Linked DNA regions of Homo sapiens. The protein of the gene in region 2 purifies or fractionates together with the protein of the main gene of each other region. This does not show direct contact. Each region holds a gene or a part of one and is shown on either strand. Other genes may lie near its edges. The genes, in order: PRSS2 and SLC35A2.

Region 1 (3,911 bases), on a different chromosome or scaffold from region 2:
CCTGGGATAGAACACAGGGATCAGTATTTTTAAGTACTCATTCTTAGGTGGCTTTAATGTGTAGCTAACCAGCAAAAGTACTAGCCTGCTCTTCTCACTAGCTCTCACCACCCCAAGATCATCCCTGCCTGCTTTTATGACCACAACCCTTGCTGTTTCATGGATTTGCCTGGGTGTGAGGGCTTCCTGTCTTGTGTTCACTCTCTGCTCTGGAGAGTCAGCTGCTGCCAACAAGTTTTCTTTTCCACCATCTCTCTCGTCCGTCCTACCCAACCTCAGTACTTCCCTGGGCTGAATCCAAGCTCTCCCAGGCAGCCTGGCTGGGAGTTTTGCAGTCAGGGGCCCCACACTTACGACTTGTAGCAGTGACCTGCTGACACCACCCACTGTTCGCTGATGAGGGAGCCACCGCAGAAGTGGTAGCCAGAATTCAAGGACACCTGGTAGGGGACAGAATTCTCCTCACAGATGTAGCCCCCAACGATCTTGTCATCATCATCAAAGGGGGCAGCAACTGGAGTGGAGATGGGAAGGGAGAAGGCAAGTCAGTAGCATGTTAGGGGTGGCGCTCCCAGCCTGTGGCTGCTTCCTGCTAATTAGAAAACCTTAACAAGCTCAGTGAGGCTAGGCAAGGGGGGGAGCGCTGCCAGCCCTGGTGATCATCACTGGATGTGGCTCCCAAGTCTCTGTGTCTGCAGGGCACGTAGCTAGGTACCCTGTGGGGGTTCAGATCTCTCCTGGGGTCACCAGGCTGAGGACGCAAGGAATATCCTCACAATACTTCCAGTGGGATAGGATTTGGGATGTGGCTGTCTCAAGCACTGAAGTCTTCTCTCTTTTATTCACCACCTGTGTACTCCACCTGGTTATTTAAGCCCCGGATTGTCTGGCTACTTTGGCCAAGCTAGGAAAACCCCCTGGCGACATCGACTTGGCCATGACCAGTTTCCCCCTCAGCTCAAATCTGCCCAGTGAGGGCAGAGTTGAGGGAAGCCCCAGGCTCACTTTTGCAGAACAAAGGTATACGTTATTATTGGTCAAAACAACAGCAATTCTTAACCTTGGCTGCATGCCTAGAAATGTTAAAAATCACCTGGGAAGCTTAAAAGCCCAGAACACAGGCTGCACACCAGACAATTGAAGTGAGAATTTCTAGAGTTGAGTGTCTTGCATGAGTAATTTCAACCTCCCCAGGTGCATTCGAGGTTAAGAGCAGCTATAGTGGTGCTATTGTGGTGCTGTCAGAGCCAAGCCTGAAGCCTACTGCTTCATTTCATGGGCCAGCCCCACCTGGTCTCCCTTCCCAGCTTCTCCAACCACAGCTCGGATATGGATGAATAACAGCGGTGGGAGTGAAATCAAGGAGAAGGTGGAACAAGTGAGGCTTAAAAAGAGCCCAAGGAGGATGGGAAGAAGAAATGCCAGATGGAGGAAATAGAATATCACAGCACAGTCAAAAGAGGAGAGGTGGCAAGAATGGCAGGGCATGTGTCTGCCAGGGAAGGGTTGGTTGAGGCCTGAGGCAGGGCGTGAAACTCACCAGCAGCTGCAACAAAGGTAAGGATCAGAAGTAGATTCATGGTGGTAGAGTGTGCCTGATTGCTGGTGGAGAACCCGTCTTTATACCTCCCGAGGATGGGGAGAGGAGGTGTCTGTGAGGTGAGGGTCACTGCTCCTCCCAGCACAAACACACCTGCAGCTTTCCCCTTCCTATGGTCTTGCATCAGTATGTTTGGCCACTCTGTGGGTTTGTGATTCACAGGTGATAAGGAAACTTGCCTTCTGAGAGCAGAGAGGGAGACCGGCTGTTTCCTGGAAGGATGCTGATATGGGAAAGACAGGGGAAGCCAAGCCCCAGATCACACAGCTGGGCTTTCTTAGGCCGAGGAGATGAGGGTTAGAAGGAGGGAGAATGGCCTGGCTGTTTAGGAATATATTTTACTATTGGGGTTATATTTAATGTACTTAAGGAAGGGCAAGTGTTGGTAGCAAGCTTGGCTTTTTAGTGTCCTGGAGCTCCCAGGAGAGGGGCAAAGTCTTATCTAACTAAGGCTTGTTCCTGTGAATATGAAGATGCTTCTCTCCAGTCACTCAGTGGGAAAGTCAAATCCAAGGCTTTGGGGAATGAGAATTCCAACATTAAGGGGTAAGGAGAAGAGAGACTCAGCATTCCATAGGATGCTGGGCTTGAAGATGGCTCTCCCTCCTACCACGGCATAGGGATGAGAAGAAGGAGGGGGCACAGGTTAGGTAGGAGCTTACTCAGTGCATCTGGAGGATGGAAAACCAATGGCGCACTCCTCCCCTTCTTCAATGTGAAGACATTTGTCTCTCATGTGCATCCTGTCATAGGTTCTTTTTATGCAGCCTCATGGTTGCCCTTGCAACCTGCACTCAGGGTGATTGAAACTGACCCACCTGCTTGGGGCTGACAGCCTGAACCAGAATGACATGCCCCTGATCACATGTCAGAGTTTGGACCATGGTAAATCTGGGTTATGATTTGATCTGAGAATCAGCAGTAGGTAGGGATTTGAGCACATGGTAAATGGGTGACATATTGGGTTCAATAACAAAGATGTGGAGGGGTGGGTCTAGAATTTTCTATTTTAGATGTAGTGAGATTATACTTGGCTCAGTACTAAGTGAATCTTTCTAGAGAATATCCTGATTTGAGCCCTACCAAGGGTACTAAGATACAGTCGTGTAATTGACTGAGGCATAACCTGGCCAGAGCAGTGTGGAGATGGAGATGCTGTCTGCGCTCAGGTCTAATAATGTAAGGAAAGGAGGGGCTTCCTTATGAGGGTGCTTTCCCTTCTCATCAACTCTGAGCTAATGTTGGTGATGGGCAGGAGTGAGCAGAGTTCAAGTTTGAATTCTTTGAAAGGTAAAAGAAGCAGGGATGTTCTGGAGACAGTGAGCAAAATGAGAAAAGCTCAGAAACTTGCTGGAGAAATCGGACATGGCCAGGGGGCTAGAGGGAGGAAGCAAATGGAAACCAGAGGTAACTGGAAAAAAATACCAAAATAGGGTCCATGGTGTTGAGAGGACACACAGAGTACCTTCAGGTTCAGCTCCTGGCATGGCCACTGAGGCAGCTTCCCCACAGCCAGGAGACCCACTGCTCTGAGGCCCCCTCTCTCCCCGGTACCCTCTCTAATCACTAATAGGCTGATACCTAACGCTGCTATGCTTAGATGGTGCATGGTGCCTGACTGCTTCACGGGAGTTTTCACGTAAGCAACAGTGGTACATTGCTCTTTGTTTATGCTGAGTTTCGCAGTTTAACTTCCCACCAACGTGCTAATGGTGACTTGTGTGGAGCAAAATTATTTCCATTTATAGAGGAAGAGACTGAGATTCAGAAGGATTCTGTCTTGCCCAAGAATACAGATCTTGGCAGAGCTGACCATAAGGCCAACAGAAGCCATGGAGAGCATTGTGAAGTGTGGGAATTGCTGCACGTGGCATCTAAAAGGAGATTTATTGAGGATCAAGGCAGAGGTCCCCAGAGGACAAACTGTACATCTGATTCCTTCCTGGTGCTTTTCTTCCTGGCAGAAATAGATGATTGAATTCATCTTTCTCCTGGCACCTTTTCTCAGAGCCTTACCTTGCCACAGTTCCAGACCCATCCAGGCCATGACTGCCATGTAGATGACACACCTCTCTGCTCATGAATAACTGGCCAAGCCTGAGGTAGCTAGGTTTTAGAGCATTGATAATATGGGGTTTTGCTGTGTTGTCGCTGAACATGTTATTTCATTTTGTCCCCTTGTCATGGGGTCTTCACAGAACTCCTGCCTTAGAGGATAAGGAGAGACTCTTGCTCTAGCAACTATAGACACCAGTGTGCACTAAACAGGGAGGTGAACCTTGGTAGAAGATGGAGAATTTTTTTGGAAAAA
Region 2 (3,911 bases):
TACAGCCCACACAGGCCGGCTACCCGGCTGTTAGGGCTAGAAAAGTGTAAGATGCCGCTACGCATAGCTGGAGTGGCGCTCCAGGCAGGTTGAGATTTGGAGACACTCCTGAAGCAAACCATCTGTGTGAACACACACACATACATGTGGAGTCTCACCCACCGACCCCAGTGCAGCCCCATCCCTGGTTCGTACCCCTCTTCTGTGCGAAGAGCAGCAGCAGGCAGGTGAGACCTTTGAGCACTTCCGCCATGACCACAGCAGTGGTGGCAAAGAAGCGGTCCCCTGGCAACGTGCGGGCGTAGCGGATGCTGAGGATGAGGGAGGCATTCTGGACCACCAGCACAGCTAGGGATATGTACTTCAGGCGCCTGTGAGCTGTGGGGAACGGAAGGGGCAAGGGGGAAGGACGGGGTCAGAAGCCGCTGGGGCATAGCCACACCACCACCCACCCCCTTTCTTTCTCACCCAGGACCCTCCTAGCCATGGCTACTTGCTCCCTCAGCCTGCCTGCCCTCACCCAATAAGGGTCTGACTCCTACCGGCTTACTGCCTCAGCCATGAGCAGGAAGAGCCAGAAGGGAGAAATGGGCCCCACCCTGTCCCAGTCCATACCTGGAATCCTTACTGAGGTGTCAGGTAATGGCTGAGGCAAACCCTGGCCACGCGCCTCGGCTTCCTCCCAAGTGAGAAGCAACTCTTCCCCAGAAAGAATACCGACAACTACATTCTCCACGTTTATTGAGTGTTTACTGTATGCCTATCACTGGGTTAAGGGATTTCTATGGATTACCTCAATAGACTCATATCACTGTCATCTCCAAAAGAACTGCGAGGATTCCCATTTATGGATTAGCAAACTGAGAATTTATATGAAATGATGCTCCTGTTTAATGAGGGACTGTCTCATGTAAAGAATAACACATCAATGCAGGGAATGAGGCCACTGTATGAGGTATGTTCACCCCCTAAGAACGGTCTTTCTCCTATCTAAGAAATGATTCGATTCCCTCACACTGAGAATGGCCTACATCCCATATGGAATGATCCTCCTCATACCCAGAATGGTCTCTCCAACCCCTCACTCCTGTGACAACTGGTTCCTCTCGAACCAGAATAGTCTACTAAATACAAGAAATGATTCCCACATGCTCCCAGGGACTGAATCCTGTATCAGGAATGGTTATCCCACCAAGAAAGGTCTGGCTCCCTCAACCAGATGAGGAAATACTTCCCTGCACTCCACATGGTCTGCCCTCCCACCACCGCACACGGACCCTCTAGCTAATGAATTTTTCCTTGCTCTACCCACACTCACAATGAGCTCTCTCTGCTATAAGGAAGGACCCGGCACTCTCAGAACGTTCTTTCTCCACCATATAACGATGAGCCCTCCCACCCGAATGTACAATGAACTCTACCTCCATTAGGAGGGAGCCCCCAGAACGGTCTCCTCCGCACATAATGAAAGACACCCCCATCCTCAAAATGGACCCTCTCTAGTCACATAAAGAAGGACTCGCCCCACCCTAACTCACAATAGTCTCTGTCCCTTTATAAGGAAGGAACCACCACCCTCAGAATAGTCTCCCCCTTCTTCAGTGAGGAACTCCCACACCCGCAGAATGGTCTCTTCCACACGGAAGGACTCCACATATTCAGAATGGTTTCGGTGGCCTTAGCCTTCCCAAAAAGAATTACCCACCACACTCACAATGGTCTCTACTCTCCATATGCGGAAGGATCCCACAATCACTCTCAGAATGTTCTCTTCCCCGCCCCCAACACACTGACAATGTGCACACACACACACACACACACGTCGGTCCACACGGGATGCTCCCTCTCACTTTAGTGAGGAACATTCCCGACTCCCAGCGATCCCGACCTCCGCCTCCCATGCGACTGCTCGGGCAGACTGTCTCACCCGCACTGGCGGTCCCCGGCTCCAATGCACCCGCGGAAACCGCCCCTGGCCCGGGCGCCGCGGTGGAACCACCAGCCCCAACCGCTGCCATGTTGGCATCTGCCCGGCCCGTCCCCTCGGCAACAGAAAAACCACTTCCGCGTTCGTCACTTCCGCTGCCGGGCCACCTGAGTGAAGGTGGAGCGAGAGCCGGGATCGTCAGGGTGGTGGCTTTTCTCCTCCGCTCCTAAAAGCTCAATGTATGAATAGCCCCGGGATTTCCAAATTCCGTCGGATCGGGAGGCCGGGGACACGGCCCGATCGGCCTACCCACCATCCCTACAGAGCTTCATCGGCCCATTCCTGTCACTAGACCCGCCTTATCCTGCCGTTCGTCCGCTTCACTGATCGCGCTTTCCAGATCATCCCCCGATCTTGTCTCCTAGACTCATTGGTTCAGCCACCCCTTTCATCTCGGCTCTTTATTGGCAGCTTCTCCATAAGGCGCCGCCCTTTCCGTATCAGAAACTACCAGGTGCTTCATGGTTGGACTGAAATTCCGCTTTCCCGTCTTCCAGAGAGGCCTCGCCCCCTGGAGAGCACACGGGAATCTGGGGACGAAGAAACTTTGACCTGGCGGGGTCGGGGTGAGGGCGTACTGGCATCAGGTGCGAGTCAGGAATGTTAAGCTAGCAGATAAAAGCAGAGCAGGTGAGGATAAACAAGTGAAAATGCAAAGGAAAGTTGACGCACATAAGGGAAGACAAGTGAGTCACCACTGAGGATGGCAAAGGGGACAGGCGAAAGGCTCACAGGTTAGCTAGCATTTGGAAGCAGGGCAAGAGTCCGGGCCAGAGGCGGTGGCTCACGCCTGTAATCCCAGCACTTTGGGAGGCTGAGCCGGGCGATCACCTGAGCTCAGGAGTTCCAGCCTGGGCAAAACGACAAAACCCCGTCTCAAATAAAAAAAAAAAATTACCCGGGCTTAGTGGTATGCACCTGTACCCAGCTACTCTGGAGGCTGAGGCAGGAGAACCGCTGGAACCCGGAAGGCGGAGTTTATACTGAACCGAGACAAATAAGCAGGGCAAGAGAGGGAACAACTCAGGTCGGAACAAGTGAAACCAACATGGAATAGGGTAGGCCAGGTAAGTCAAGTGTTGAAGGAGAAATTAGAGGGATGGGTATGTAAGGGTAAAGATGGGGGAAGAGGCTAAAGATAAAGAGCAAAACAGGTGACTACACCCTGGACAGATTCCAGTCAGCGCCCAACCCCAGCCCCGCCCTGGCCAGTACCCTGACAGGGCTTTTCTTCTGCAACAGGGGAAAGGGCTTCTTCATTCCCCTGGGGTGCCAGGGAAGGTAGTTTTTCTGCTTCTGAGATAGCCATCTTGATTGGGGATGTGCCCTAAACACCTTCAATATGCACAGTATCTCCAACAGAGAACCCTTCTGCACATACTGGGCACTGCATAAGATCAGGGGCAGGGGAATCAAGATTTTTTTGTGTGTGTGTGGTGCAGCTTCAAGAATCCTTAAAGCTCTTTAGGATGGCAACATAAGACTGTGGCTTCCTGAGGACAAAGCAGAGGGACAGTCTGTCTCAGTGCACAGTAGATGCTCCATAAAAGCCTCACACCTACAAATGGCCAGCCGCTTCTGATTCTATTACTTTTATTAAATAGTGGGTTTCCACACATGGCTTTTTAAATAATCCAGGCAGGAGAAGAGAGGAGGGCACACTTGGAACTCCCCTCCCCACAATACGTGATTATTTACATTTTAGTAATTGGACAATCCCGGCTCAGGAGGAGGTTGCAAGAATCTGCAAAAGTTGGAGGGAGCGCCCCAGGAGAACAAACAGCAAGCCTTATTTCCCCTAGCCCATCCCCCAAAAAACCATCCATCCCATCCTAGTGTCTGGTGGTGTCCGGTGGTGTCCATCTTCCATTCCTTCCCAAATTATGGAAGTAAGGTTCTTCTCACCAGAATAAGAGCACTTGGG

What was found.
Region 1: the proteins of SLC35A2 (region 2) and PRSS2 purify together in Homo sapiens (affinity purification with mass spectrometry; 2 studies listed by BioGRID and IntAct, with this or other methods). This does not show direct contact.

What each region holds. Positions count from the first base shown.
Region 1 is NC_000007.14:142,768,652-142,772,562, reverse strand, and holds the start of PRSS2 (trypsin-2 isoform 2 preproprotein), read right to left. Parts: upstream 1,594-3,911; 5' UTR 1,581-1,593; coding exon 1,541-1,580; intron 515-1,540; coding exon 355-514; intron 2-354; coding exon of another isoform or gene 1-1. UniProt on the Homo sapiens protein: In the ileum, may be involved in defensin processing, including DEFA5.
Region 2 is NC_000023.11:48,909,619-48,913,529, forward strand, and holds the start of SLC35A2 (UDP-galactose translocator), read right to left. Parts: upstream 2,029-3,911; 5' UTR 2,019-2,028; coding exon 1,928-2,018; coding exon of another isoform or gene 1,889-1,927; intron 700-1,888; coding exon of another isoform or gene 616-699; intron 379-615; coding exon 196-378; intron 1-195. UniProt on the Homo sapiens protein: Transports uridine diphosphate galactose (UDP-galactose) from the cytosol into the Golgi apparatus, functioning as an antiporter that exchanges UDP-galactose for UMP.